Linked DNA regions of Homo sapiens. The protein of the gene in region 1 interacts with the protein of each later gene in a pairwise test. Each region holds a gene or a part of one and is shown in the gene's direction. Other genes may lie near its edges.

Evidence for each region.
Region 2: the proteins of CXADR (region 1) and ANKRD46 interact in binary tests that used the Homo sapiens proteins (3 or more experiments, as listed by UniProt).
Region 3: the proteins of CXADR (region 1) and VKORC1 interact in a two-hybrid assay, tested with the Homo sapiens proteins (one study listed by BioGRID).
Region 4: the proteins of CXADR (region 1) and FAM3C interact in binary tests that used the Homo sapiens proteins (3 or more experiments, as listed by UniProt).

Annotation. Positions count from the first base shown.
Region 1 is NC_000021.9:17,508,943-17,516,046, forward strand, and holds the start of CXADR (coxsackievirus and adenovirus receptor isoform 1 precursor), read left to right. Parts: upstream 1-4,100; 5' UTR 4,101-4,187; coding exon 4,188-4,230; intron 4,231-7,104. UniProt on the Homo sapiens protein: Component of the epithelial apical junction complex that may function as a homophilic cell adhesion molecule and is essential for tight junction integrity.
Region 2 is NC_000008.11:100,549,738-100,556,759, reverse strand, and holds part of ANKRD46 (ankyrin repeat domain-containing protein 46), read left to right. Parts: intron 1-5,026; exon of another isoform or gene 5,027-6,220; intron 6,221-7,022.
Region 3 is NC_000016.10:31,091,786-31,099,675, reverse strand, and holds the start of VKORC1 (vitamin K epoxide reductase complex subunit 1), read left to right. Parts: upstream 1-4,878; 5' UTR 4,879-4,946; coding exon 4,947-5,119; intron 5,120-6,254; coding exon 6,255-6,364; intron 6,365-6,809; coding exon of another isoform or gene 6,810-6,893; intron 6,894-7,890. Other genes in the region: zinc finger protein ENSP00000375192-like, read left to right, coding at 4,298-4,792.
Region 4 is NC_000007.14:121,393,288-121,401,162, reverse strand, and holds the start of FAM3C (protein FAM3C precursor), read left to right. Parts: upstream 1-4,854; 5' UTR 4,855-5,001; exon of another isoform or gene 5,002-5,038; intron 5,039-5,141; exon of another isoform or gene 5,142-5,474; intron 5,475-5,691; exon of another isoform or gene 5,692-6,213; intron 6,214-7,875. UniProt on the Homo sapiens protein: May be involved in retinal laminar formation. Promotes epithelial to mesenchymal transition.

The DNA of each region.
Region 1 (7,104 bases):
AGCCTGGGTGACAGATGGAGATCCGTCCCAAAAAAAAAAAAAAAAAAAAGAGAGTTTCTTAATTCACATGTCTTCATATTCCAAGCTGAGAAGAGATGAAAATCCTTTAATTCTTAAGTATAAATTAACCTTTGAATATGATTGTAGGATTTTAATAATCTATGGGTGTGTTCATAGATCTATTAGTGCTGAGACATTTTTGTAAGGATGGATGCTTTATTAACCACAGTTATTTGTGTATCTGTAATTATAGCCTTGATGGAGCAAGGATCATCACCTTTAAGCTGGTTTAGAGGCTATATAATGTGGAGTGCTTGGTGCATTACTAAGACAGGGCAATTCACTTAATGGCTGTGCACTATTTCTTAGCTTGGTTTGAAGACAAAAAAGAATAATTTATATGTTCCAGAATAAATGAGATTATCTTATTATAGCTTCCAGAAGACATAATTTCCAAGCTGACAACAGCCACAAATGCATTTTAAGGTGTCTTTAATATATTTCACATAACTGCATAATTTTAGCTACTGTTTATGAAATAATTTAGTCACAAACCAAAGTCTAAAAATGACTTCATGTAACTTTTTAAAGAACAATACTTCCCCAAATAAGATCGACTGCTTCTTTCAAGATTATTTAAATCTTAGAATGGTACATTTTAAAAAAATCTGTGTTCAGTAATCTAAAGCAGCAGAAAAAAATTGATGTAAAACTTACGTTTTAAAAAACGCATTCTGGGCTGGGCACAGTGGCTCACGGCTGTAATCCCAGCACTTTGGGAGGCCAAGGTGGGCGATCACCTGAGGTCAGGAGATCTAGACCATCCTGGCTAACATGATGAAACCCTGTCTCTACTAAAAATACAAAAATTAGCCGGGTGTGGTGGAGTGCACCTGTAGTCCCTGCTACTCAGGAGGCTGAGGCAGGAGAATCGCTTGAATCCAGGAGGCCAAGGTTGCAGTGGGCGAGATCACGCCACTGCACTCCAGCCTGGGCGACAGAGCGAGATCCTGTCCCCCTCTCCCAAAAAAGCACATTCTGAAAAGATATATTTAAGGTGCAATGATTTGTTGTTGCACAGATACTTAAATTTTATTAACATATTGCCATAGAAAATAAGCATTCAATTCAACTTGAGAAATACTTGAGAACCTAGTATGTGCTTTCAGAAGTGACGAAGACAAAAAAAAAATGTGCTTTTTCAGCCTTCTAGAAGTATTTAGAACAAGAAAAGTGATTAATAGGTATGCAAATGCCTAACACAGAAGGAGGCAAAAGCTAAGAATTAGAAGAAAAAGTACCAGGAAAGGGATTAAGATAAAAATCCTTTTGGGTAGTTGTTGTTCCTCTTCCTCCTCCTCCTCCTTCCTCCTCCCTTCGTCCTCCCGGTCCTCCTCCCTCCTCCTCCTAAATCCTTTCGGGTAATTCCTCCCCCCCCCCTCCTCCTCCTAAATCCTTTTGGGTAATTCTTCCTCCTCCTCCTCCTCCTTTTCTTCTTCTTTCTGCTTCCTTCTCCTTCTTGGATCAAGGCTCTCTGCAACCTCTGCCTCCTGGGCTCACTTTATTAGCTCCACTTACTGAGATCCTGCTTACCGGGTTCCTGCACATAGTAAGTGGAAGATAACAAAACTAATATTGGATAATATTTGTCCTCCTACCTCAGCCTCCGGAGTAGCTGGGACTACAGGCACTGCGCGCCATCACATCCGGCTCATTTTTTATTTTTAGTAGATATGGGGGGTCTTGCCATGTTGCCCAGGCTGGTCTCGAACGCCTGGGCTCAGGCGATCGTCCACCTCTGCCTCCCAACATGCTGGGAGTTCGAGACCAGCCTGGCCCATATGGTGAAACCCCGTCTCTACTAAAAATACAAAAATTAGCCGGGCGTGGTGGCGCGCGCCTGTAGTCCCAGGTACTCGGGAAGCTGAAGCAGAAGAATCGCTTGAACCTTGGAGGCGGAGGTTGCAGTGAGCCGAGATGGGGTCACTGAACTCCAGCCTGGGCGACAGAGCGAGTATAGAAAAGTTCTCGTAGAACACTGTTAAACAGATGAACAACTTCAATACTTGCTCTTCTCTGCTTGATTTCATTTAGTGTGGTGAGTAAAAATTTAAATTCCAAATATTATTTACACGCAATTATATCCAGTAGAATTCCTGTTTGCTCAAATGGGAAGTCCCTAGCCGTTACTCATGTTGTCTTACGTCTGTATTGAACTCTTATTAGTTTGTAAAAGCTTTGGCAGAACTTTACAATCAGATGGTATGATTTTGCAAAGCCACTTCCTCTTACTACCACTGGTCATCTGTCATTTATTGGGCTGCCGTAAAGCAGGATTCCCCTTAAATCAAATTAAATTGGAATCACTTGAGTAAGGCTCAGGTACTAGTATATATATACATATATAGATAGATAGATAGATAGATATATTTTTTTTTTTTTTGAGACGGAGTCTCGCTGTGTCGCCCAGGCTGGAGTGCAGTGGCGCAATCTCGGCTCACTGCAAGCTCCCCCTCCCGGGGTTCACGCCATTCTCCTGCCTCAGCCTCCCGAGTCGCTGGGACTACAGGCGCCTGCAACCACGCCTGGCTAATTTTTTGTATTTTTAGTAGAGACAGGGTTTCACCGTGTTAGCCAGGATGGTCTCGATCTCCTGACCTCATGATCCGCCCGCCTGGGCCCCCAAAGTGCTGGGATTACAGGCGTGAGTCACCGCGCCCAGCCAGGCACTAGTATTTTTAAAACATTCTCCAAGTAATTTTCATGTGCAGCCAGAATTGCAACTCACCAGGCTAAACTGCAGTTGCGCAATTCTGGTCTTCTTGATACCTGATTTCTTTGCCCCTTCTCTTTTCTGGTTCAATGCATAATAAGAATTTTCCAATATTAGTTTTATTAGCTTCCACTTACTGAATTCTGCTTACGGGGGTTCCTGCTTAGTCTAGATAGTAAGCAGGAACTTACAAACTATGTAAGCTTATAGACTACATAAGCAGGAACCCTGTAAGCAAGAACTCAGTAAGTGGAAGCTAATTAAAACTACGTGCCAGGCAGGGTGCCAAGCATTTTTTGTGCATTATCTCATTTAACTTTCATAGCAACCCCGAAGTAGGTGCCATTTCTATGAAACCTGCCCAGTTACTGCCCCACTCCGCGGAATAAGCTCTTACCCACCGCTCCTCTTCTTCAATTCATTTCTGTTATGGAACTGTCGCGGCACTACAAAGTCTCTATGTAGTTATAAATAAACGTTATCTGGAAGAGCAGCCGACAACAACTTTCAAGATCTCCAATTCCCCGACCCCACACTCCAACTGACGCCTTCAACCACAACTACTGAGCCCCACTTTCAAAGCTCACTCACTAATATTGGATAATAGTTGTCTGCCTACCTCAGCCTCCGGAGTAGCTGGGACTATAGCGTCTTACTAGCCAGCTTCAGGGCTAGAATAGCCTTTCTGTGCAAGTGGAAAAAACCTCAGGTATTTCCCAAATCGGTAGCTGCAGAGGGGCTCTATCCCTACCAGAGATGGAGAAAAGCCCTCTCGCGCTTTTTATGTCAGCCAGAGCGGCTCGTTAAGAGAGCGAAGGCCAGGGGCTGCACAGGTCGCATCCCGTGAGCATGAGGTCAGAGAACCTGCCCCTGGGGCAAACCGCGAGGGGTGGGACGGGTGGGTGCAGGCGGGGCGGAGGGTAGGAGCCGCCCTAGTGGCGGCCCCTGGGAGTGTCCCGTGCCTCGCCTTAAAGGAGGGCGCCAACGCAATTTCAGTATGTGGGAGACGGGCTGCCCCACCCCCGCGCGCAAAACCCTGGTTTAGCTTAAGGGATGGAGGCGGGGACCCCTGCGCAGGCTTGCGGCGTGGGAGGCGGCCGCCCGCGACCTACGACGCCGCGCGCCGGGAGGCTGAGAGTTCGGCGCCGGGAGGGTCCCGGGGACAGAAGAGCGCCTCGCCCGGTTGCCAAGGCAACCCCACGCGGCTGGAGAAGCCGGCGCTCGCAGCCCGGCCCGGGCCGCTGCCGGAAGTGACGCGAGTTCACCTGCCGAGCGGGGGCTGGGAGGAGGGGCGGAGGGTGCAGAGGTGCCGCCGCCGCCGCGAGCCAGTCGGGAGCGCGCGAGGCGCGGGGAGCCTGGGACCAGGAGCGAGAGCCGCCTACCTGCAGCCGCCGCCCACGGCACGGCAGCCACCATGGCGCTCCTGCTGTGCTTCGTGCTCCTGTGCGGAGTAGTGGGTGAGTAGGGGCCATGGGGTCCTCAGCACCCGCCCAGCCCGGGGGCGCTCGCTGCCCGCGGCCACCCAGGAACAATGGGGCGTGGGGGAGGGGGCGGGCGCGATTTGGGGGCGCTGCTGCAGGGGCGGCGGGGCGGGCAGAATTGCACAGGGGCGCTTTTGCTGGGCCGGGCGCTCCTGGAGCCGTCCCGTAGGGAGCCGCGCAGGGCGCGCGGAGTGCCCGGGGACGGAGCCCTCGGCGGGGGGTGGAGGCGGAGGGGCTCGGGCGCGGCGTGTCGGGTGCGCCTCGCAGCTCTCCCATAGCATTCTCTGCCCCGGTGCGGGCTTGCCTTTCTTTGCTCTCGCCGTCTCCCTTGTCAGCCTTCGTGTCGGTTCTCTCCAGCGTTACCCGATTTCAAAAACCTTGGGCGGCGAGTTTTCAGGTGTCGAGTCGCCCAGGCGGGGAGGCTGAATTGCAAACGCCATTATTCAATGGACATGGAGCTGCCCGGTGCCTCGGATCGGCCAGGCTACCTCTAGGAAAGAGGCGCTGAGCGAACGCCAGCCTGGACGGTGTTAGTCTCCTGGAAGCAGCTCGCCCAGGCAGGAGCTGCTAACCAGACGCGCATTGTGAAGGAGACCGTGGAAAATCAAAAGTGGGTTCCTGCAAAAATGTAGCATTGGTTTCTGCAGTCCTTGGGCGAAGTGCAAAGGAGAATTCAGTGACCTCGTTTTTGAGTTTGTAATGAGTCGTTCATTTTGGAGATAAGACGGGCTGAGTTGTACAGGGTAATTGCTAGAGGATTTGCCAAGTGCGTTTGTCGACTGCTCCTTTCTCTGGGAGGGGAAAAAAGGCATGTGAAAAATGCGTGGACCATTAGGAGGCGTAATCATTTTGACACTTTAAAAAACGGATTTTCCATGTCGGTGTTTTAACCAACTGATCTTGTTTGTCAAACTAAGCACTTGCTGCGTTTTATAACCAAATAATTCATTTTTAAAAATCCGTAGGTGGGATCCTAGGAGGCGCACTTAGTATAGCCTCTGGAAGGGTAATTTTTTGTTGTTAGGTGCTCTGAAGCAGGATCTAGTGGCCCTTTCTGTTGGGATGGCTCTCTGCTTCCTGTTGAAATGTTAATTCCATTGTTGGATGCCACAGCTGTGAGCATTACTCATGGGATCAACATTCTATTAGCAAGTCTAATCTTCGATCTGAGCCTATAGCACTACCTCCACCTTTTTGATATATATCATTTAGACTTGGCGGGCTGAAATGTCCAAAGTAAGCCTTCCGGAGAAGATGAAGGGTCATAGAACCAGTTTACAGGTACATTCCCACCTTTCTTTCTTTTTTTTCTTTTTTTTGTCTAGGCCGAACCTGAAGATGAAGTTGAGAACACAGTGTGTTCTCTGGGAAAAAAAAAAAAAATAGTTTTAGACCACATCTAAAGCAGAAAAGTGGAAGAACATAAATTATGTGGAGGAACTTTTTTTTTTTTTTAAATGGAGTTTCGCTCTTGTTGCACAGGCTGGAGTGCAATGGCGTGATCTTGGCTCACCACAACCTCCGCCCCCCGCGTTTAAGCGATTCTCCTGCCTCAGCCTCCTGAGTAGCTGGGATTACAGGCACCCCCCACCATGCCCGGCTAACTTTTTTATTTTTAGTAGAAACCATGTTGGTCAGGCTGGTCTCAAACTCCCGACCTCAGGTGATCCGCCTCCCTCAGCCTCCCAGAGTCCTGGGATTACAAGCGTGAGCCACCATGCCTGGCAGGAACTAGTTGTTGTTGTTTTAACGGGAATATTTAGATAATTGGATTTAATTTTTTTTTTTTGGAATGCCTCACTTTGATAGGCACAATTCTAAGAAATAATATTTTGATGCAGAGAGTCATTGTGCTCATAAGGTATACACGGGTACAGTGAACATCTACTCGAAGGGCCAGTGTCTCAGCTAAACAAGGCAACTATCTTTATTCCAGTTTTTCAGTTTAAGAACAGCTGAGGCCAGGCACGGTGCTTGTAATCCCAGCAATTTGGGAGGTTGAGACGGGAGGGTCATTTGAGTGTAGGAGTTTGAGACCAGCCTGGGCAACATGGCGAGACCGCATTTCTACAAAAAATACAACAAAATAAAACCCAAAAAGAACTAGCTAGGTGCAGTGATGCTTGTCATAGTCCCAGCTACGCGGGAGGCTGAGATGGGAGGTTTGCCGGAGCCTGGGAGGTCTAAGCTCATGAGGTCTAAGATCATGACGCTGCTCTCGAGCCTGGGCGACAGAGTGAGACTCTGTCTCAAAAAAAAAAAGAAGACATACTAATTGATGAATGGCTTTATTTCTTCAGATATTTCTGACCATTTAGAAATGCATTGGTATGGGCCGGGCGCGGTGGCTCACGCCTGTAATCCCAGCACTTTGGGAGGCCGAGGCGGGCAGATCATGAGGTTAGGAGATCGAGACCATCCTGGCTAACACGGTGAAACCCCGTCCCTACTAAAAATACAAAAAAATTAGCCGAGCCTGGTGGCAGGCGCCTGTAGTACCAGCTGAGGCTGAGGCAGGAGAATGGCGTGAACCCGGGAGGCGTAGCTTGCAGTGAGCCCACATCGCGCCACTGCATTCCAGCCTGGGCGACAGAGCTAGACTCCGTCTCTGAAACAAATAAACAAAAAAAAAGGCATTGTTATTAACTCAAGTTCACTGTTAACATGATTGACTCCTACTTTAGCAAAACAAGGGAAAGACTCATTCAGATTATACCGTCAGTGATAGATATTCCTCCAGCTCTGAAACAGTTTTGTGGTATACTCTGGCTGCAGATGGGACTCCTTTCGATGCATTTTTATTGGCTGCCTACTAGTGAGTCATACTACTAGTAATCAGTAGTAGCAGCA
Region 2 (7,022 bases), on another chromosome or scaffold:
GCTGATTGACAAGTCAAGTAAGATGAAGACTAGGAGATGACCATTGGATTTAGTAATAGGAAGGTCCTTGGTGACCTTGCAAGAGCACTTTCAGGAGAATAGTGAGGAAGAAAACCTGATTGGTGTGGTTTCAAGAGACAACAGGAGGAAGAGCATTGGAGACTGCAGTATGGACAGCTCTTTGGAAGAGGTTAGCTGTAAATTTTTCATATGTCGGTTATTTGAAAGCACTGTAGTCGTTCCCATAGTAAATTTTTATTTCCAGCTTAAGCTACTGATTAATACCTACTACACTTGGATTGTTTTAATCAATGACTGGTGGAAATAAAATAGCTATCCTACTGCTGATCATAATAATAATGTATACTTAACTTTCTAAACCAATAAAGCGTGTCCTTTTTACGTAGTACATTTCAGAGCCCATAAAAATGCTTGGGTGGGCTGGGCGAAGTGGCTCATGCCTGTAATCCCAACACTTTGGGAGGCCGAGACTGGAGGATCTGTTGAGCTCAGGAGTTCAAGACCAGCCTGGACAACATAGGGAGAGCTCATCTCTACAAAAAACTTTAAAATTAGTTGGGCGTGCTAGCACACACCTGTGGTCCCAGCTACTTGGAAGGCTGAGGTGGAAGCATCTCATGGGCCTGGGAGATTGAGGCTTCAGTGAGCCATGATTGAGCCACTGCATAGTTTCAAATGTAGTAGGTGTATAAAAAGAATGCAATTTTTATCTTAAGGCATGAGTTCAGGTTCTTGTTTCTGCCCTCAGCAAGTTAATGTCCAAACCCAAATACAAAATAATCAAGGTACGCAGTAAAATACCAGATTTACACCATCCTGACTGGATAAATGTGCCTTTTCCATAGCAAATACAGCCATCTGTTGCATTGTAGATGTAAAATGATTAAAATATTTCAAAGTTTAGGGTTATAGCTACTGATTTTTTAAATCCAATAATTTTATCTAAAAGATAACAGGTCCTTTAGATGTGGAAATCTTTTTTTTTTTTTTTTTTTTTTTTTTTTTTTTTTTTTTTTAGCTGAGGAAAATATTAAGTTGGTGCCTTTTGTTTTGCTCTTGTTTTTTTCTCCAGGAATTTTTCATTGGTTGGCTCTCCTTTCTTGTTCTCATTGCTGTCATCTCACACATCCTTTCTAACTTTTTTCTTTTGCATAGCTTCTTAAGTTAGGCCCTTCCATCACTGATTTCCTTACTGCTTATAATTTGGATTTTAAATTTCTATTGTGTTTTTATTTAACTTATAGTCTTTTTTTTTTTAGTCCCAGTCCTCTTTAATACTGTTTTTTCCCCCACCCTGAGTTCTTAATTTTTTGTATGTCCCTGAGAGCACAGTATTTTTCTGGATTTTTTTCATTTTCTTATTGTAAGTAATTCTCAGTGGTGTGCTTTTCTTCATGTAGATCTAGTGCACCTCTTTGCTTCTGGTGTAGAATTTTTTCACTGACTCCATGTTGACTTTCTTTTGGTTTTTTTTTTATCCTTTAAAAATGAAAGAACTTCTGAGACTATAATATTGAATTTGTCATACTAGTACCATTCTACTGAAGGTTTTTTCTAGATTTCCTATAAGGAAAATAATTAGAGAACTGGGTTTTGTCTAGGCATTCTATAAAAGACACTATTGTGATGTTTGTAAAAGATTTCTATTTAAAATAACTTTCAGTACTATTAGAACTTAAGTTTATGGTTATGTCTCTGTGATAAGTACTTTTTTTTTTTTTTTGGAGATGGAGTCTCACTCTATCACCCAGGCTGGAGTGCAGTGGCACAATCTTGGCTCACTGCATCAAACGATTCTCCTGCCTCAGCCTCCTGAGTAGCTGGGACCACAGGCACACACCACCACACACAGCTAATTTTTGTATTTTTAGTGGAGATGGGGTTTCATCATGTTGGCCAGGCTGGTCTCTAACTCCTGACCTCAAGTGATCCACCTCAGCCTCTCAAACTGCTGAGATTACAGGCATGAGCCACTGCACCTGGCTAAGTACTTTTTTTTTCCTTGTGTTTTTTTGAGACAGGGTTTTGCTCTGTTGCTCAGGCTGGAGTGCAGTGGCACAATCATGGCTGAATGCACCCTCCACCTCCCAGGCTCGAGTGATCCTCCTGCCTCAGCCTTGAATATCTGGGACAACAGGCACGCACGCACCACCATGCAAGGTTTATTTTTAAATTTTTTTTGTAGAGATGGGGTTTCACACTATGTTGCCCAGGCTGGTCTGGAATCCTTAGGCTCAAGTGATCCTCTTGCTCCAGATTCCCTAAAGTGCTGGGACTATAGGTGTGAGTCACTGCACCCAGCCAAGTACTTTTTAAAATTAAACTGGTAAACAGACATTAGAATTACCAATGTAAACTTTATATCTAAAACCAAAATCAATTACAAAGGATCATTATTTTCCAAAGTAGATACTTTTTTTTAGTGCTGTTCAGTTTTTCTGAAGCTTATCTTTGTTCACAAGGATTGTTAGCACTTCCACCAAATCAGTGTTTAGAAACCTTAAATAATTTAACGTCTGACTTGCCAGTACATTATTAGAGAAACAATTCCAAGACCAAAACATGTTGAATAAGCAGGAGATATACACCAATTTGATTTTAAAATGGACAGCTTTCCTGTCTCTGGCTCTCTCTCATGTTGCCTTAAACACACATATGCTGAAGAAATCATATACAGATACTTGCATGCATTTAATAAACTATCCAATAAGTGGTGCTTTTAATAAATTCTGAATACAATCAATTAAAAGATTTGTGCACATTATTATTTAGGTATGGTACCAAGTAAATCAGAAACAAATGCAAGAGCACGAATGGTTTATTTAGCTACCTTTCCATATTGGGTCTTGATGACATTAGATACTCTGCTGTATTTTATTTTTTAAAGTAAACATATTAAAACTAGCCAAATAACCTATATTTTCTTTTATTACATTATGATGCCTTTTTTGGTTTGCCTGAGTTTTTTTGGTTTTTGTTTGTTTGTTTTTGAGATGGAGTTTTGCTCTGTCTCCCAGGCTGGAGTGCAGTGGTGCAACCTCAGCTCACTGTAGCTTCCGCCTCCTGGGTTGAAGCGATTCTCCTGTCTCAGCCTCCCAAGTAGCTGCGACTACAGGTACATGCCATCACACCCAGCTAATTTTTGTATTTTTAGTGGAGACGGGGTTTCACTATATTGGCCAGGCTGGTCTCAAACTCCTGACCTCAAGTGATCTGCTGTGGCCTCCCAAAGTGCTAGGATTACAGGCATGAGCCACCACACCCAGCCTGCGTAAGTTTAATTAAAAAAACAAAAATATTCTGAGTGTGACTTTGTTGAAACAGTTTATATAGGCATTTTAACTTTGGTGGCAGTTTTAGTCCTACTATCAGTCATCTTTTTTCCAGTAGCCCAGCATTGCTGCTACGTTAATTTAAATCTGCCCCTCTGCCCTCTCCTCAGTCTTTTGGCTGTATTTTGCCCATTGGCTGTTAATGCTGATTTTTTTTAAACACAACAAAAACTGTGGATTGCTTATAAAAGTTTTCCCACAATAGGCTTATTTTTATTTCACTTGTTTATTCAGAATATCCTTTCAACTTGTTTTTCGGTTATCTCCTTGGTCAGTTCTAGAATTTACCAAGCTCTCAGTCAGTGTTCAATCTCCTGTGCTGAACATGAGATTTCTTAGGCCTGGATTCAGCTCCTTCTCAAAGAGAGTTAAATATCAGTGCACTTCACCCTTTGACCTTTGTCTTTTGCTGAAACATGTGCCACAAACCATATTTTTTTCCTTTTTAGGAAGCAATGACAGAAGCATATAAGAGTGGAAATCAAATAGTAATGACCACTTCAGATTCTGTGTCATTTAGATATTTTGTTCTAAGTAACAGAAAACCTAATTTAAACTGTCTTAAAAAGATCCTTTATTGATACCCGTAATAGGAAAAGCCCAAGGCTTGACCCTTTTATCTGTTCTGCCTCACTCTGTATACTTGCTATCTATGAAATATAAAAATGACAAAAGCAATTTTAGGTATCTCATTTATACACCATAGAAAAATAAAGTGAATGTATTTCTCTGGCATTCCAAGCAAAGAGTTTTATTGGACTGGTCACTTGCTCACCTTTAAATAAACCACAATAGCTAGGGAATGTGATATGTTACATGGCCTTAGATAATAAAGACTGACCCCTCCAAAGCATATGAGCAGTGAAGAGTAGTGGAGTTGGGTACCAGTGGAACAGGTAGGAATGGAGTCTAGGTAGACAGGGGACATCTGAGGAAATTAAAAACACATAGTTGATTTTCAGTCAAAATAATATATTAAATTCATGTTTGGGCACCTGGCAATAACTGATGTTAAAAAAAAAAAAGCGCCAAAGTATAGTCAGAATAGTAAATAGGATAACCATCTCTATAGAGTACAAGCACAAAGTAATGAGTGAGGCTGTAGCTGTTTTGGAATTGGCCAAAATGGAAATCATCCAATATCTGATCTCAGACGAAAAGGAATTAAATTACAATTTGATAACAGAAAGATAGCCGGAAAATCACTGAATACTTAGACATTAAATAACACATTTCTTTTTTTTTTTTTTTTTTTTTAAGACAGAGTCTCACTCTGTCACCCAGGCTGGAGTGCAGTGGCGCGATCTTGGCTCACTGCAACCTCCACCTCCCAGGTTCAAGCTATTCTCCTGCCTCAGCCTCCCGAGTACCTGGGACTACAGGTGCACACCACCACACCTGGCTAATTTTTGTATTTTTAGTAGAGACGGGGTTTCACCATGTTGGCCAGGCTGGTCTTGAACTCCTGACCTCAGGTGATCCGCCCACCTTGGCCTCCCAAAGTGCTGGGATTATAGGTGTGAGCCACAGCACCCAGCCCAAAATGTTTTCAAAAGACATATATGATGAAGACTGTTATCCAAAATACACAAAGAACTCTTAAAACTCAACAAAAAGAGAGGTGGGTATGGGTGCTGGCTGAGGTCACTCAGTGCTGACCATCCTCTTCTCAAAGCCATGTCTCTAAGACATCATGGTGAAGGTGAAGGCCAGAGTAAATAGATTTGGGCCATATTGGGCACCTGGTCACCAGGGCTGCTTTTAACTCTAGTAAAGTGGATATTGTCACCATCAATGACCCTTCATTGACCTCAACTACATGGTCTGCATGTTCCAGTATTTCTACCCATGGCAAATTCCACCACACCGTCAAGGCTGAGAATGGGAAGCTTGTCATCAATGGAAATCCCATCACCATCTTCCAGGAGCAAGATCCTACCAAAATCAAATGGGGTGATGCTGAAGCTGAGTATGCCGTGGAGTCCACTGGCATCTTCATGACCATAGAGAAGGCTGGGGCTCACTTAATGGGGGAGCCAAAAGGGTCATCATCTCTACCCCCTCTGCTGATGCCCCCATATTCATAATGGGCATGATCCCTGAGAAGTCTGAAAACAGCCTCAAGATCATCAGCAATGCCTTCTGTACCACCAACTGCTTAATCCCCCGGCCAAGCCCATCCATGACAACTTTGGCATTGTGGAAGGACTTGTGACCACAATCCATGCTGCCACTCCTGCCCAGAAGACTCGATGGCCTCTGTGGGAAACTGTGGCATATGTCTGTGGGGCTCTCCAGAACATCATCCCTGCATCTACTGGTGTTGCCAAGGCTGTGGGCAAGGCCATCCCCGAGCTGAACAGGAAGCTCACTAGCATGGCCTTCCGTGTCCTTCTGCAAACGTGTTGGTTGTGGACCTGACCTGCCATCTGGAGAAACCTGCCAAATATGATGACATCAAAAAGGTGGTGAAGCAGGCGTCAGAGGGCCCCTCAAGGGCATCTTGGGCTACACTGAACACCAGGTTGTTTCCTCTGACTTTAACAGTGACACTCACTCTTCCACTTTCGATGCTGGGGCTGCCATTGCCCTCAGTGACCACTTTGTCAAGCTCATTTCCTCGTACAACAGTGAATTTGGCTACAGCAACAGGGTGGTGGCCCATATGGCCTCCAAGGAGTAAGACTGCTCGACAACCAGCCCCAGTGAGAGCACAAGAGGAAGAAAGAGACCTTCAGCTTCTGGGCAGTCCCTGCCATGCTCAGTCCCCCACCACACTGGGAATCTCCCCTCTTCACAGTTTCCATGCAGACCCCACAAAGAGCTCTATCTTGTCGTGTACCATCAATAAAGTCCTCTGTACTCAAAAAAAAAAAAAAGATAGAAAATGAACAACCTGATTTTAAAAATGAGCCAAAGATCTTAATGGACACCTCATCACAGAGGATATACAGATGGCAAATAAACATATGAAAAAGATGCTCCACGTCATATGTCATCAGGGAAATGCAAATTAAAACAATGAGATCCCACTACACACTTACTAAAATGGCTAACTAAAATCTAGAACGCTGACAACACCAAATGCTGGTGAGAATGTGGATTAACAGGAACTCTTATTCATTGCTAGTGGGAATGCCAAATGGTACAGCTACTTTGGGAGACAATTTGGTGGTTTCTTAAAAAAACTAAACATACTCTTACCATCCAGCAATCATGCTCCTTGGTATTTACCCAAAGGAGTGAAAAACTGTCCACACAAAAACCTGCATGTGGGTGTTCATGTCAGCCTTATTCATAATTGCCAGAACATGGAAGCAACCAAGATGTCCTTCAGTAGGTGAACAGATAAACTGTAATACATACAGAGAATGACATATTATGCAGTCCTAAAGAGAAACTATGAAGCCATGAGAAGATACAGAAAACACGTATTATGAGGGAAAGAAGCCAATCTGAAACAGCTGCATACCGTATGATTTCAGTTATATGACATTCTGGAAAAGGCAAAATTATAGAGACAATAAAAATATCAGGGGTTGGGTAGAGAGAGGGATGAATAGGCAGAGCCCAGAAAATTTTTAGGGCAGTGAACCTAATCTGCCTGATGCTATAATGATGAATACATGTCATTGTAAATTTGTCTAAACCCATAGAATGTATAACACC
Region 3 (7,890 bases), on another chromosome or scaffold:
GGAAGCCAAGGAGGGCGGATCATGAGGTCAGGAGTTTGAGACCAGCCTGGCCAATATGGTGAAACCCCGTCTCTACTAAAAACACAAAAATCAGCCACGCATAGTGGCTGGTGCCTGTAATCACAGCTACTCAGGAGGCTAAGGCAGGAGAATCACTTGAATCCGGGAGGCAGAGGTTGCAGTGAGCCGAGATTGCACCACTGCATTTCAGCCTGGGCAGCAGAGTGGGACTGTCTCACATTAATTAATTAATTGATTAAATGCTAGAAGAAAATATGGTCAAAATCTTTTATAACTCTTGGAGTGAGGAAGGCAATCTCGGCTCACTACAACTTCCACCTCCCGGGTTCAAATGATTCTCCTGCCTCAGCCTCCTGAGTAGCTGGGATTACAGGCACCCACCACCATGCCCGGCTAATTTTTGTATTTTTAGTAGAGACGAGGTTTCGCCATGTTGGCCAAGCTTGTCTTAAACTCCTGACCTCAGGTGATCCACCCACCTCAGCCTCCCAAATTGCTGGGATTACAGGCATGAGCCACCATGCCCCGCCTAATTTTAAAAATGTTTATAAAGACAGAGTCTTACCACGTTGTCCAGACCTGTCTCAAACTCCTGGGCTCAAGTCATTGTCTTGTCTCAGCCTCCCAAAGTTCTGGGACTACAGGTGTGCACCACCACACCTGGCTAATTTTGTTTATTTTTTATAGAGTGAGGGTCTCCCTGTGTTGTCCAGGGTGTCTCAAACTCCTGGGCTCAAGTGGTCCTCCTGCCTCAGCCTCCCAAAGTGCTGGGATTATAGGCATAAGCCACTGCACCTGGCCCCAGTGTGTGTCTTCTGAGGCTAAGTCATAAAGAGATTGCGGCTTCTATTTTGCTTCCTCTTAGATCACTCATTCTGGGGGAAACCAACAATAAATAACAGGAACACACCAGGAGATCAGAGAAAGCTGAGATACAGGCCTAATGCCCAGTCCTCTGTATTCATTTCTAATTGCTGCTGTAACAAGTTACTGCACATTTAATGATGTAAAACAACACAAATTTATCTTACAGTTCTGTAGCTTAGAAGTCTGACAGAGTCTCACTGGGCTGAAATCAAGATGTTGATAGTTCCTTCCCGGTGACTCTAGAGTGAGAATCCAGTTCTTTACCCTTTCTTGCCTTTAGAGGCCACCCGTATTTATTAGCTCACAATCCCCTTCCTCCATCTTCAAACCAGAAACATTGCAGCTCTCTGTGTCTTTTTTCTTTACTCACATCTCCCTCTGACTTTCTTCTGCCATCCTCCTTCATTTTTTAAGGACCCCTGTGGGCCAGGCATGGTGGCTTATGCCTGTAATCCCAGCACTTTGAGAGGCGGAGGCAGGCGGGTCACCTGAGGTCAGGAGTTCCAGACCAGCCTGGCCAACATGGCAAAACCCCATCTCCACTGAAAATACAAAAATTGGGCCAGGCACGGCGGCTCACACCCGTAATCCCCATACTTTGAGAGGCTGAGGCAGGTGGATCACTTGAGGTCAGGAGTTCAAGACCAGCCTGGCCAACATGGTGAAATCCCGTCTCTACTAAAAAAAAAAAAAATTACAATAATTAGTCAGGCGTGGTGGCCAGCACCTATAATCCCAGCTACTTGGGAGGTTGAGGCACAAGAATTGCTTGAACCCGAGAGGGGGAGGTTGCAGTGAGCTGAGATTGCACCACCGTACTCCAGCCTGGATGACAGAGCAAGACTCTGTCTCAAAATAAAAATTAAGATAAATAATAAAAAATAAATAAAAATCAGCAAATTAGGCCAGGTGTGGTGGTGGCTCATGCCTGTACTCCCAGCACTTTGAGGTGGGAAGGTTGCTTGAAACCAGAAGTTTAGACCAGCCTGGGAAACAAAGTGAGACCCCATCTCTACAAAAATAAAAATAAATTAGCCAGGTGTGGTGGGACGTACTTGTACTCCTAGCTACTAGGGAGGCTGAGGTGCAAGAATCGCTTGAACCTGGGAGACGGAGGTTGCAGTGAGTTATGACAGTGCCACTACACTCCAGCCTGGGTGTCAAGGGTCTTTGAAAAAATAAACAAAATAGGCTGGGCGTGGTGGCTTACACTTGTAATCCCAGCACTTTGGGAGGCTGAGGCAGGCAGATCACAAAGTCAGGAGTTCGAGACCAGCCTGGCCAACACAGTGAAACCCCGTCTCTACTAAAAATACAAAAATTAGCCAGGCATGGTTGCACGCGCCTGTAGTCCCAACTGCTCGGGAGGCTGAGGCAGGAGAATGGCTTGAACCTGGGGGGGGGCGGAAGTTATAATGAGCCAAGATTGTGCCACTGCACTCCAGCCTAGGCAACAGAGCGAGACTCCGTCTCAAAAATAAAAATAAAAATAAATCAATAGAGCCTGGTATGATGGCTCACGCCTATAATCCCAGCACTTTGGGAGGCCCAGGTGGGTGGATCATCTGAGGTCAGGAGTTTGAGACCAGCCTGACCAACATGGAGAAACCCCATCTCTACTAAAAATACAAAAAATTAGCCAGGCGTGGTGGCACATGCCTATAATCCCAGCTACTCAGGAGCCTGAGGCAGGAGAATCGCTTTAACCGGGGAGGTGGAGGTTGCGGTGAGTCGAGATAGCACCATTGCATTCTAGCCTGGGCAACAAGAGCAAAACTCCATCTCAAAAATAAATAAATAAATAGATAGATAGGCTGGGCACGGTGGCTCACGCCTGTAATCCCAGCACTTTGGGAGGCCGAGGTGGGCGGATCACCTGAGGTCAGGAGTTCAAGACCAGCCTGGCCAATATAGCGAAACCCTGTCTCTACTAAAAATTTAAAAAATTAGCCAGGCATGATGGCGGGTGCCTGTAATCCCAGCTACTCGGGAGGCTGAGGCAGGAGAATCTCTCGAACCTGGCAGGCGGAGGTTGCAGTGAGCCGAGATCACACCATTGCACTCCAGTTGGGCAACAAGAGCGAAACTCCACCTCAAAAACAAAATAAAATAAAATAAAATCAGGAGATTGGTCAGCTTAATTCCATCTGCAACCTTAATTCCCTTTTGGCCATTTAACCTATCATATTCACAAGTTCCAGGGATTCATGCAGGGACATCTTTGGTGACCATTATTCTGTCTACCACACTCTCTAGAAGAGAGTAGATGTGAGAAACAGCATCTGGAGAGGGAGGAGCCAGCAGGAGAGGGAAATATCACAGACGCCAGAGGAAGAGAGTTCCCAGAAGGGTAGGTGCAACAGTAAGGGATCCCTCTGGGAAGTCAAGCAAGAGAAGACCTGAAAAACAACCATTGGCCGGGTGCGGTGGCTCACGCCTATAATCCTAGCATTTTGGGAGGCCGAGGTGGGTGGATCACTTGAGGTCAGGAGTTTAAGACAAGCCTGGCCAACATGGTGAAACCCTGTCTCTACTAAAAATACAAAAATTAGCCAGACATGGTGGCAGGCACCTGTAGTCCAAACTACTTGGGAGGCTGAGGCACGAGAACCACTTGAACCCTGGAGGCGGAAGTTGCAGTGAGCCGAGATGGCACCGCTGCACTCCAGCCTGGGCGACAGAGTGAGACTCCGTCTCAAAATAAGTAAATAAATAAATAAATAACCATTGGGTCTAGCGTCTTGGTGACACCAGCCACTAGGTGTCAGGGCAATGCTGGAGGCAGCAGCTAGTTTATGGCGTGGGCAGCAAGGAAGAAGTGAGGAAGTAGAGACTGGGAGTGTAGAATCTTTCCAAAAACTTGAATGTGGAGGGGTAGATGGGATAATGCCGGGAGAGGAGGCTGGTGAAGGACCTCTTAGTGAAGGGAGATTTGTTGCTGTTTCTGAGATGGGAAAGAGAAACAAGTTGCAGTGTAGATGGGGAGGATGGAGAGGTTGAAGGTGTAGGAGAGATGGGTCACCATCAGATGGGACGTCTGTGAAGGAGAGACCTCATCTGGCCCACAGCTTGGAAAGGAGAGACTGACTGTTGAGTTGATGCAAGCTCAGGTGTTGCCAGGCGGGCGCCATGATAGTAGAGAGGTTAGGATACTGTCAAGGGTGTGTGTGGCCAAAGGAGTGGTTCTGTGAATGTATGGGAGAAAGGGAGACCGACCACCAGGAAGCACTGGTGAGGCAGGACCCGGGAGGATGGGAGGCTGCAGCCCGAATGGTGCCTGAAATAGTTTCAGGGGAAATGCTTGGTTCCCGAATCGGATCGCCGTATTCGCTGGATCCCCTGATCCGCTGGTCTCTAGGTCCCGGATGCTGCAATTCTTACAACAGGACTTGGCATAGGGTAAGCGCAAATGCTGTTAACCACACTAACACACTTTTTTTTTTCTTTTTTTTTTTTGAGACAGAGTCTCACTCTGTCGGCCTGGCTGGAGTGCAGTGGCACGATCTCGGCTCACTGCAACCTCCGGCTCCCCGGCTCAAGCAATTCTCCTGCCTCAGCCTCCCGAGTAGCTGGGATTACAGGCATGTGCCACCACGCCCGGCTAATTTTTGTATTTTTAGTTGAGATGGGGTTTCACCATGTTGGCGAGGCTGGTCTTGAACTCCTGACCTCAGGTAATCCGCCAGCCTCGGCCTCCCAAAGTGCTGGGATTACAAGCGTGAGCCACCGTGCCCGGCCAACAGTTTTTAAATCTGTGGAGACTTCATTTCCCTTGATGCCTTGCAGCCGCGCCGACTACAACTCCCATCATGCCTGGCAGCCGCTGGGGCCGCGATTCCGCACGTCCCTTACCCGCTTCACTAGTCCCGGCATTCTTCGCTGTTTTCCTAACTCGCCCGCTTGACTAGCGCCCTGGAACAGCCATTTGGGTCGTGGAGTGCGAGCACGGCCGGCCAATCGCCGAGTCAGAGGGCCAGGAGGGGCGCGGCCATTCGCCGCCCGGCCCCTGCTCCGTGGCTGGTTTTCTCCGCGGGCGCCTCGGGCGGAACCTGGAGATAATGGGCAGCACCTGGGGGAGCCCTGGCTGGGTGCGGCTCGCTCTTTGCCTGACGGGCTTAGTGCTCTCGCTCTACGCGCTGCACGTGAAGGCGGCGCGCGCCCGGGACCGGGATTACCGCGCGCTCTGCGACGTGGGCACCGCCATCAGCTGTTCGCGCGTCTTCTCCTCCAGGTGTGCACGGGAGTGGGAGGCGTGGGGCCTCGGAGCAGGGCGGCCAGGATGCCAGATGATTATTCTGGAGTCTGGGATCGGTGTGCCCGGGGAACGGACACGGGGCTGGACTGCTCGCGGGGTCGTTGCACAGGGGCTGAGCTACCCAGCGATACTGGTGTTCGAAATAAGAGTGCGAGGCAAGGGACCAGACAGTGCTGGGGACTGGGATTATTCCGGGGACTCGCACGTGAATTGGATGCCAAGGAATAACGGTGACCAGGAAAGGCGGGGAGGCAGGATGGCGGTAGAGATTGACGATGGTCTCAAGGACGGCGCGCAGGTGAAGGGGGGTGTTGGCGATGGCTGCGCCCAGGAACAAGGTGGCCCGGTCTGGCTGTGCGTGATGGCCAGGCGTTAGCATAATGACGGAATACAGAGGAGGCGAGTGAGTGGCCAGGGAGCTGGAGATTCTGGGGTCCAGGGCAAAGATAATCTGCCCCCGACTCCCAGTCTCTGATGCAAAACCGAGTGAACCGTTATACCAGCCTTGCCATTTTAAGAATTACTTAAGGGCCGGGCGCGGTGGCCCACTCCTGTAATCCCAGCACTTTGGGAGGCCGAGGCGGATGGATCACTTGAAGTCAGGAGTTGACCAGCCTGGCCAACATGGTGAAAGCCTGTCTCTACCAAAAATAGAAAAATTAATCGGGCGCTATGGCGGGTGCCTTAATCCCAGCTACTCGGGGGGGCTAAGGCAGGAGAATCGCTTGAACCCGGGAGGCGGAGGTTTCAGTGAGCCGAGATCGCGCCACTGCACTCCAGCCTGGGCCAGAGTGAGACTCCGTCTCAAAAAAAAAAAAAAAAAAAAAAAAAAAGAGACTTACTTAAGGTCTAAGATGAAAAGCAGGGCCTACGGAGTAGCCACGTCCGGGCCTGGTCTGGGGAGAGGGGAGGATAGGGTCAGTGACATGGAATCCTGACGTGGCCAAAGGTGCCCGGTGCCAGGAGATCATCGACCCTTGGACTAGGATGGGAGGTCGGGGAACAGAGGATAGCCCAGGTGGCTTCTTGGAAATCACCTTTCTCGGGCAGGGTCCAAGGCACTGGGTTGACAGTCCTAACCTGGTTCCACCCCACCCCACCCCTCTGCCAGGTGGGGCAGGGGTTTCGGGCTGGTGGAGCATGTGCTGGGACAGGACAGCATCCTCAATCAATCCAACAGCATATTCGGTTGCATCTTCTACACACTACAGCTATTGTTAGGTGAGTGGCTCCGCCCCCTCCCTGCCCGCCCCGCCCCGCCCCTCATCCCCCTTGGTCAGCTCAGCCCCACTCCATGCAATCTTGGTGATCCACACAGCTGACAGCCAGCTAGCTGCTCATCACGGAGCGTCCTGCGGGTGGGGATGTGGGGAGGTAACTAACAGGAGTCTTTTAATTGGTTTAAGTACTGTTAGAGGCTGAAGGGCCCTTAAAGACATCCTAGGTCCCCAGGTTTTTTGTTTGTTGTTGTTTTGAGACAGGGTCTGGCTCTGTTGCCCAAAGTGAGGTCTAGGATGCCCTTAGTGTGCACTGGCGTGATCTCAGTTCATGGCAACCTCTGCCTCCCTGCCCAAGGGATCCTCCCACCTTAGCCTCCCAAGCAGCTGGAATCACAGGCGTGCACCACTATGCCCAGCTAATTTTTGTTTTTGTTTTTTTTTGGTAGAGATGGTGTCTCGCCATGTTGCCCAGGCTGGTCTCAAGCAATCTGTCTGCCTCAGCCTCCCAAAGTGCTGGGGGGATTACAGGCGTGAGCTACCATGCCCCACCAACACCCCAGTTTTGTGGAAAAGATGCCGAAATTCCTTTTTAAGGAGAAGCTGAGCATGAGCTATCTTTTGTCTCATTTAGTGCTCAGCAGGAAAATTTGTATCTAGTCCCATAAGAACAGAGAGAGGAACCAAGGGAGTGGAAGACGATGGCGCCCCAGGCCTTGCTGATGCCATATGCCGGAGATGAGACTATCCATTACCACCCTTCCCAGCAGGCTCCCACGCTCCCTTTGAGTCACCCTTCCCAGCTCCAGAGAAGGCATCACTGAGGGAGGCCCAGCACCATGGTCCTGGCTGACACATGGTTCAGACTTGGCCGATTTATTTAAGAAATTTTATTGCTCAGAACTTTCCCTCCCTGGGCAATGGCAAGAGCTTCAGAGACCAGTCCCTTGGAGGGGACCTGTTGAAGCCTTCTTTTTTTTTTTTTTTAAGAAATAATCTTGCTCTGTTGCCCAGGCTGGAGTGCAGTGGCACAATCATAGCTCACTGTAACCTGGCTCAAGCGATCCTCCTGAGTAGCTAGGACTATAGGCATGTCACTGCACCCAGCTAATTTTTTTTTTTTTTTTTTTTTTTTTTTTGCGACATAGTCTCGCTCTGTCACCAGGCTGGAGTGCAGTGGCACGATCTTGGCTCACTGCAACCTCTGCCTCCCGGGTTCAAGCAATTTTCCTGCCTCAGCCTCCTGAGTAGCTGGGACTACAGGCGCGTGTCACCACGCCCAGCTAATTTTTGTATTTTTAGTGGAGACAGGGTTTCACCATGTTGGCTAGGATGGTCTCAATCTCTTGACCTGGTGATCCATCCGCCTTGGCCTCCCAAAGTGCTAGGATTACAGGCGTGAGTCAACCTCACCGGGCATTTTTTTTTTGAGACGAAGTCTTGCTCTTGCTGCCCAAGCTGGAATGTGGTGGCATGATCTCGGCTCACTGCAACCTCCACCTCCTAGGTTCAAGCGATTCTCCACCTTAG
Region 4 (7,875 bases), on another chromosome or scaffold:
AGTCTTTTTTGTGCAAAGATACATTTGCTGTAATGCCATTCTACTGTATCCTCCATGTTTCATAGTAAATTAAACCACATTTTATAGGCTGTGTTGCTAATGTATCAAATACAGTGCCATGAAATCTGTGCGCACTCCAGCTTTTTGAACTGTACTATTTTGCCCTTACAGGCAAGGATGAAGTTTAAGGGTTTTAAATTCACATTTTTATAAAAACTCTGAATAATAATTTTCAAATGACACTTAGATGTGGTATTTTAACCTGTATAGGTATAAAATTTGACACGTTTACTTTCAGTTTTATTATTTTACCTCTCTTTTTCTCTCTCTTCTGCTATATTCTTTAGAAGCTAGGCAAGTTTCTGGCCATCTTGCCACAGGTTTGAGTTTATAATCCAATATAAACATGCTTGAATATTTTAAAGTAATCCTACCCCCAGAGTTGGTCAACTCTTTTCCCCCTACAAATGTTTTCTTCCCTGATTCAGTTATTTATTGCTGTGTAACAAACTACCACAATACTTAGTAAATTTTTTTAAGTATGTTATTTCTCAAGTTTCTGTGGGTTTGTTGGTCTAAGCTGGGCAGTTATGCTCCATGTGGTACTGTCTGGAGTTACTCATGTGATATACTCAGGTAGGAGCTTAGCTGGAGCTAGAACATGCAACACGACTTTACTCATATAGCTGGTGCCTTGGGGAAGTGGTTGGGATGGTGTGGATGGAGAGAGAGAGCTAGGCCTCTCTCTGCATGTAGTTTCTCATTATTCAGTAGTTGTCTGAGTTTCCTATATGGTGACTAGATCCTGAAGCTAGTGAAAATGGAAGCTGCAAGGTCTCTTAGGGTCTAAGCCCATAAGTCACATAAGATCTCCTCCATGCATTCTATGGGTCAGAATAAGTCCCGGGGCCAGCCTAGGTTCAAGAGAAGAGGACATAGATTGACCTCTTGATGGTAAAAAACAAAGTGGCATGAACTTACAGGAATGGGGGAATTGTTGGTAGCCATATTTGCCTATAATTTACTACTCCATATACAGAAAAATGATACCAAGTGGACTCTTCTTCTTGAGGGTGGGTGCAATTAAAATTCTGAGGCTTTTTGGAAATTTTGTATTTAACAATATTATCTAATTCTTATATATACATTTTTTATATATTCTTATATAGTTACAGTAATATAAAGCAGGTTATAGTTTTATATAAAATATGGCACCTATTGAGAGAATGAACATTCCTTTCTTTTAATCATGATTTGTGGTTTTGTTTTTAAGCCTTATGATCACATATAATTTTAAAATTTGTGTATATCTCCTCTACTTTAATCATTTTAAGTTGGCAAAAGCACCATTCCCAATCACAAATACACAGCAGTTCTACGATTTTCTGTTTCTGAATGGCTTTTTTTTTTTTTTTTTTGAGACAGAGTCTCACTCTGTGGCCCAGGCTGGAGTGCAGTGGTGCGATCTCAGCTCACTGCAAGCTCTGCCTCCCGGGTTCACGTCATTCTCCTGCCTCAGCCTCCCCAGTAGCTGGGACTACAGGTGCCCGCCACTACGCCCGGCTAATTTTTTGTATTTTTAGTAGAGACGAGTTTCACCGTGTTAGCCAGGATGGTCTCAATCTCCTGACCTCATGATCTACCACGCCCAGCCTCTGAATGGCTGTTTAAAGACAATCCTAAATTATAACTTAGTTTGACTTAGATTGTAAATAATTCAAGAGTGAAGTTTAACTTGCTACTATTTTAAAAGCATATTATCTTACAGATCATCTATAAAATGTGAGAAGTGTTAAATAATCTTTATTTGATATTACACATACACCACACTAAAATGCCTTTCAATAAGTAAAAGGAACTATTTTAAATACAGGGAATTCTAATTAGATTGACATAGTTAAGGCCAAAAATATAAAGTAGACATTGCTACCTTATCTTCAACCCTTGCCTTTAAGAGGCAAATGAACACAAAACACAGGTGAATCTTGCTTGGTTCTGAGATAGTGAAGGAATTTCTCCAGTATTTAAATATATTCACATAACCAGTTATATAAATCCAAATATAAAACCAATCTCCAATATGTTTTAAGATGGCATTCACCATCTTTGTGAAAAGCTGAACATTACTAACAAAGTCTAATCAAATCATGTCTTTAGAAAGGGTAAACAGTGATAGCATTTACTGAATTGGATTACTATTAAAATTCAAAAAAACTGAACATATTCATTTAACTGCAAGCCAGTCTTAGTTTTACATCAGGACTGCCCAACAAAATATTCTGTCAGTTATTCATGATCTGAATTCTGGTGTGTGAGGTCTATTAAATTATGGTACACATAAAAAAGTCATAAGACATTTCTGTTTTGTAATAAATAAGGCAGTGGCCAATTATTATTCATTAGTAGCTTTTTTGAGATAAGCTATCAAGTCTGCTCTTTCTGCCTTCTTCTTAATGCTGGCAAAGATCACTTTGTTCCAGAGATGTGCTTCTTGGGATTCTCCAAATACTCCATCAGTGTATCCTCTCCCCAGGTGATGCCTTTGTTCTTAATGGCATCTGTGTAAAATAATCCAACGGCTTGACCTGTCTTCCATCCGAAGAGACCATGGAGATTAGGCCCAGTCCTGTGCTTGCCTGCCTTTTCCACAGTGTGGCACTGGGCACACTTCTGAATACAAATCTTCTTGCCTTTCTCAACATCATCCATATTTAATCCTCTCTTTTGTTGCTTGTGCTATGAAGGATGACACTCAGAAGCTGGATGTCACACTCTCTGTATATTCTTTTCGAGTCAACAAAAAAGTTGGGCTTTGAAGTTGAGCACGTGAGTTTGAATCTTAGCTCTGTCTGGTCATAGCAGAAGGACCTTGAGCAAGTTTCACTTTTCTCCGCTGTATTTATAGGATTATTGTGAGAATTAAATAAGTCTATATATATAAAGTGCTTAGAAAAGTGCCTGGTGCACAATAAGCACACAATAAATATCAGCTTTAGAAATATACATTATCAGTAGCTATTATTATATAATATAAATTATCGGTAGTTATTGTAATAGCCAACACCTTTGGCTTATACCTCCTGGAGCTGTAAAGCTCTGTGGTTTTATTAAGCTTAATCATTAATCCTGAATACTTCTCCTGGCTCCCCTACCTCCTGCCAAGTAAAAGTAGGAAGTTATCCTTACTCGTTTATAGGTGTAAGAACTGGCTGATTAACAGGAGTCCTAAAGAAGTGATTTACCAATGTTAAAAAAATTGAAACCCATATTAAGAAATATAATTTCTACTGTATCCAGGACATAGACACACAGACACTCACCCACACATGATGCTGTACAAATGTTTCATGAAGAATACTTATCCTGAATTTATGCTTTGAACTGTTTTTTTTTTCTATTTTTCAGTGAATCAACAGCAACAAAATGTTGGTTGTGACCCATTGTTATTAATTTCATTACCTACCAAAGGGTTCTAAGCTATATCTTATGGTCAGTGGAGAATAGGCTACTAACACATTAAACTTTATGCACAGGAATTGTTTCAGGTGTGGTGCTATAAGAATATGTCACATGTAATTTCCAATCTGGTTGGCTCGGTTACAGAGCAGATTGCTCTTTCAGAAATACACCGTGACCTCCCTACTCAAGAGGCTTCATAAACTCTTTCAGTGAGACATAGCAGTCTAGGAGAGGCATGTGTACAGTAAGTGTTATGATTTTTTGGTACTATAATAAGCAAAGTGCCTTTTTGTTTATTTGGAGCTACATGAAGCTAGGCCGGAATTCCAGCTTCATAACTTACTATCTTGTATTTTTGAGCAAGATATTTAAACTCAGTTTTGGAGTCTTAGTTTTTTGATTTAAGTAATACACAAATAGCATAATATTGGCACATGGAAGACAATGAGAATTCATTTCATGCTTTCTCCCCTGATCACGGATCACAAACTCCAGAATTCATAGTTACTATTAGTTTGTGTGTTTTATATTTTTGGAGGAAAGCTAAAATTTGGTAGATTATTAATTCTATATTAACACACTATAGTCAAACCCTATTTTTAAATGCAATTTAATTTCTGCAACCACTGATGATCCCAATATTCTGTCAAATACTAGGTAACAGTTATTCATTATTTTAGAATATGGATCTGAATTATGAAATAATTTTGCATTCTAAGGTCTTATGTAGTAAGATTTGGATTAACTTCCCAATTATCAACACAATTGTAGGAAATCTCCTGAGAAAAAATATTTCTAACGATTGTGTATCTTATAATTTAAAAAATAAACGTGACTTGGAAAATGCAAGGACTACTGTTCTTCTTGGGTGGTGCATTAAAGGTGATCAGAATTCTAATGACGCTGGACAGTAGGATTTTCAGAATCAGTTTCCTAGGGTTCAAGAAGTCAAACGGCAAATAACCCAAGGTCCTTGGTTGATCTGACCATCTCAGCTATCTCAAGATATATAAGATGACCTAACTGGCGCATCTCTAGGATGGGTGGGTCATTTAAAATGTTCTGCCCTTGAGGCTGGGATTTTGTGCGTGTAAACGGTGGGGAGACGGCGGTGACACATTTTTCTCCCTCCCGTAGTGCCACCCGGCGCAGGGCCGCTGCGGCGGCGGCAGCTCCCACGTGGCAAGTTCAGATTGTGCAGCGCCTGGCCGGGGGCGGTGGGCGGGACCGCAGACCCCTCCCTCCGCTCTCCGGCCCTTCCCTCTGGCCGGCCCGGGCGCCCGCTTGGTCCTCCACCGCCAGGGGGCGGGCGCGGCTTCCCGGCGGCGGGGGCCCATTGGTCGCGGCCGGGAAGCGTGGGAGGAGGCCCAGCGGCGAGCTGGCTTTCTCCTGGCCACTTGCCGGGGTGAGGGGCAGCCGGAGGAGTCCGAGAGGAAGCGGAGGCGCGAGCTGGAGGCGGCGGCTCCCGTCGGCCTCCGGCAGGACTGAGCGCTGGGAGGCCGGAAGGCGGGCGCGCGCGGCGGAGAGGCGGGCGGGAGGCCGGTGAGACGGCTGGGAGGCGGACGGAGCCGGGGCTCAGGTTCGGGGAGGGATGGAGGAGGCCGGGGAAGCCAGACGCCCACCTACGACTTCAGCCTCCGCGCACTGCGGTCACCGGCCGGGGGCGGGCCCCGGGCCCGGCCGCGTTGTCACGGCGTGTCCGGACGTTGGAGAGGGCGCAGGCGGGACTGGGGTCCCGGAGAGCCGCTGGCCGGGGTTCCCGGCCGCCGCCCCGGCGTGGGCATCCCCGGGCTCCGCGGAGACGGGGCGGCGTCTGCACCTGGCGCTGGCACTCGGCGCCCCGGCCTGGGGCGGGCACCTGGGTCGCATCTTCCCCAGGTTGGCTGTGGCTCGCGCCCCTGCAGCGTGTAGGCTGAGAGCTCCGAGAGGTGGGGACGGAGTTGGGTGTTGCATTCCAACTCCATAGGGGGCCGTTTTGACTCACTTGTAAAGTTTTAGTGTCGCCTATACTAGAGGTACTTTTGGTTTTTTACAAGCTATCCAGCCCTTTGATGTTTGGTGTCTCTTCTTTTTCTTCCTATTTGTTTGCTACTGCTCTCACAGCTCGGGACCACGGATGATGATTAGTGGCCCTAGATCTGAATATGTGAGTGACGGATTGGCAATTTGAGATTGAGAGCTCCAGCTGTTTTACTTGTGGGAGGAGCGGTTTCCATCATCCTCTACCTTTTTTTTTTTTAAGAAAAAATATTATTGCCTGTAATATAGAACTGCTATCTAATTGATAGGACTTTTCCTTTGTTTCTTTTTGGCCAACATGGTGAAACCTCGTCTCTACTAAAAAATAAAAAAATTAGCCAGGTGTATGTATCCATATATATATATGTATGTATGTATCCATATATATGTATGTATCCATATATATGTATGTATCCATATATATGTATGTATCCATATATATGTATGTATGTATCCATATATATGTATGTATCCGTATATATGTATGTATCCATGTATCCATATATATGTATGTATCCATATATATATGGATACAATGACATAAATAATATTAGATTGCTTACTGTGTACTAGGCACTGCCAAATGGTTTCGTGTGCTCATTTATTCTCACAACAGCTCAGTGAATAAGTCCCTTTATCTTTTCTAGTTTTACAGATGGAAATATGAACTCCCGAGAGTAAAGGTCAATGCTGATAGCAGAGGCCCCGACCCCTTGGACTTGTGGCCAATTTGCAGTTACGTTTTCTTAAGTCTTGGGAACCGTTACTATTAGTCATACAGTATCTTACAGAGTACCAGCAGATCTCTATTGAATTTAGAAAATAAAAGTTAATCACTTACTGAAAGCCATTTAACAAGAAATTGGCAGAATCAGCAAATCAGCATCCGGTTTTGGTCACTTCATCGACCTGTACCTCTTTCTAGAGGCTACTAGTAGTCTCTTGTGTTTCTTGGCTGTTTACCAATAAAGTCACAAGGTTTTCAGTTTTATACAGGTATTAGAAGCTTTGTTTCACAGATTCTTGTAATGTTTTCTCAACTCAATAAAGACTAGCATTTCTTCATAGGAAGAAATAAGAAGAGTTGGAGCCAATAAAAGGAGTTCAGTCCAGCAGTTCTCAACCTGAGGACCTCTCTGAATTACCAATGGGAACTTTGTAAGAGGGACACAGGACAGGTTCCTCAAAATCCTCATTGTAAGGGGCTTCTGTTTCAAAAGGGAGTAAAAATAAGACACTACTGGCTTAAAGTGACTTTAAAAATAAACTTAATGGATGTTTTATTACAATTACAGATTTTTAATGTGGATTGCTGCCTTAAGCATTGTCAACTAATCTTTCATAATTTATGAAGATACATTAAAAAGGAAAAGGAAATTGGAAAAGACAGCCAAAAGGCTAAGAGGCTATGGAATGGCAAAAAGTAATGTTCCCTGAGGGGGTATCAGAAGACTCATATATTTTCCACCATATATTTTAGGTTTTGAACGATTCATTTTTCAAAAATTTTTATACTCTTAAAAATACTGGAGTGCCTACCATGTACCAGTAATTGTAGATATCATGGATACTATGAATAAGACAGCCTGGGCACTCACAAAGCTACTTTATTTTCTCTAAAGCAGGGAATCTTTTTTATTTTTATTTTTATGCCCATTTCTTAAAGCTGAAAGGTGCAAGACCCAAATAGCAAAAGATTTTTATGTTAGCGCTGAGCTAGATAGATTTTTGTGCGACCTTGGTATAATAGCAAAAGTTTGTCTTGAATTTAGTCCAGAAGCGTCTCTGTTCTTGGGATCAGATGATCAGGATTTGAAGCATTGATTCTGTATTTAGTTATTTCAAGAGTGGCATTGACTAAATTACTTAATATCATGCAGTCCTTTTTAATCTGATTGAGTAGACTGAACCAGGTAATTTCCCAAAATCTTTGAACTTTTAAAAGGTTTTGTACTTTCTTTTAATGCAATTCTTTGAGACACAATCGGCTGACTTCCTCTCAGAGGAGGAAATTAAGTGTTGTAATACCCCTAAGTCTTTCCAGTGTACCCATTAATATTCTTTTTCTTCTTCATTGGCCTGCTCCATTTGATTGAAGCTATTCTTATATTTCCCTTATTTTTAATCTAATTTTGAAAATCCGCTATTCATGATTTTTCTAACTTCAGTGAGTTTTTTCTTCCAATTTTCTTTTTTAAATTAAATTCCTGTAACAGAATTTTTCATTTTATTTTTAAATTATTTACAAAGACAGGGTACCCCACTGTTCTGCAGACTGGAGTGCAGTGGTGTGATCATAACTCACTGTAGCCTTGAACTCCACCTTAGCCTGTGGAGTAGCTAGGTTTACAGGCATGTGCCACCACACACGACTAATTTTATAATTTTTTTTCTTAA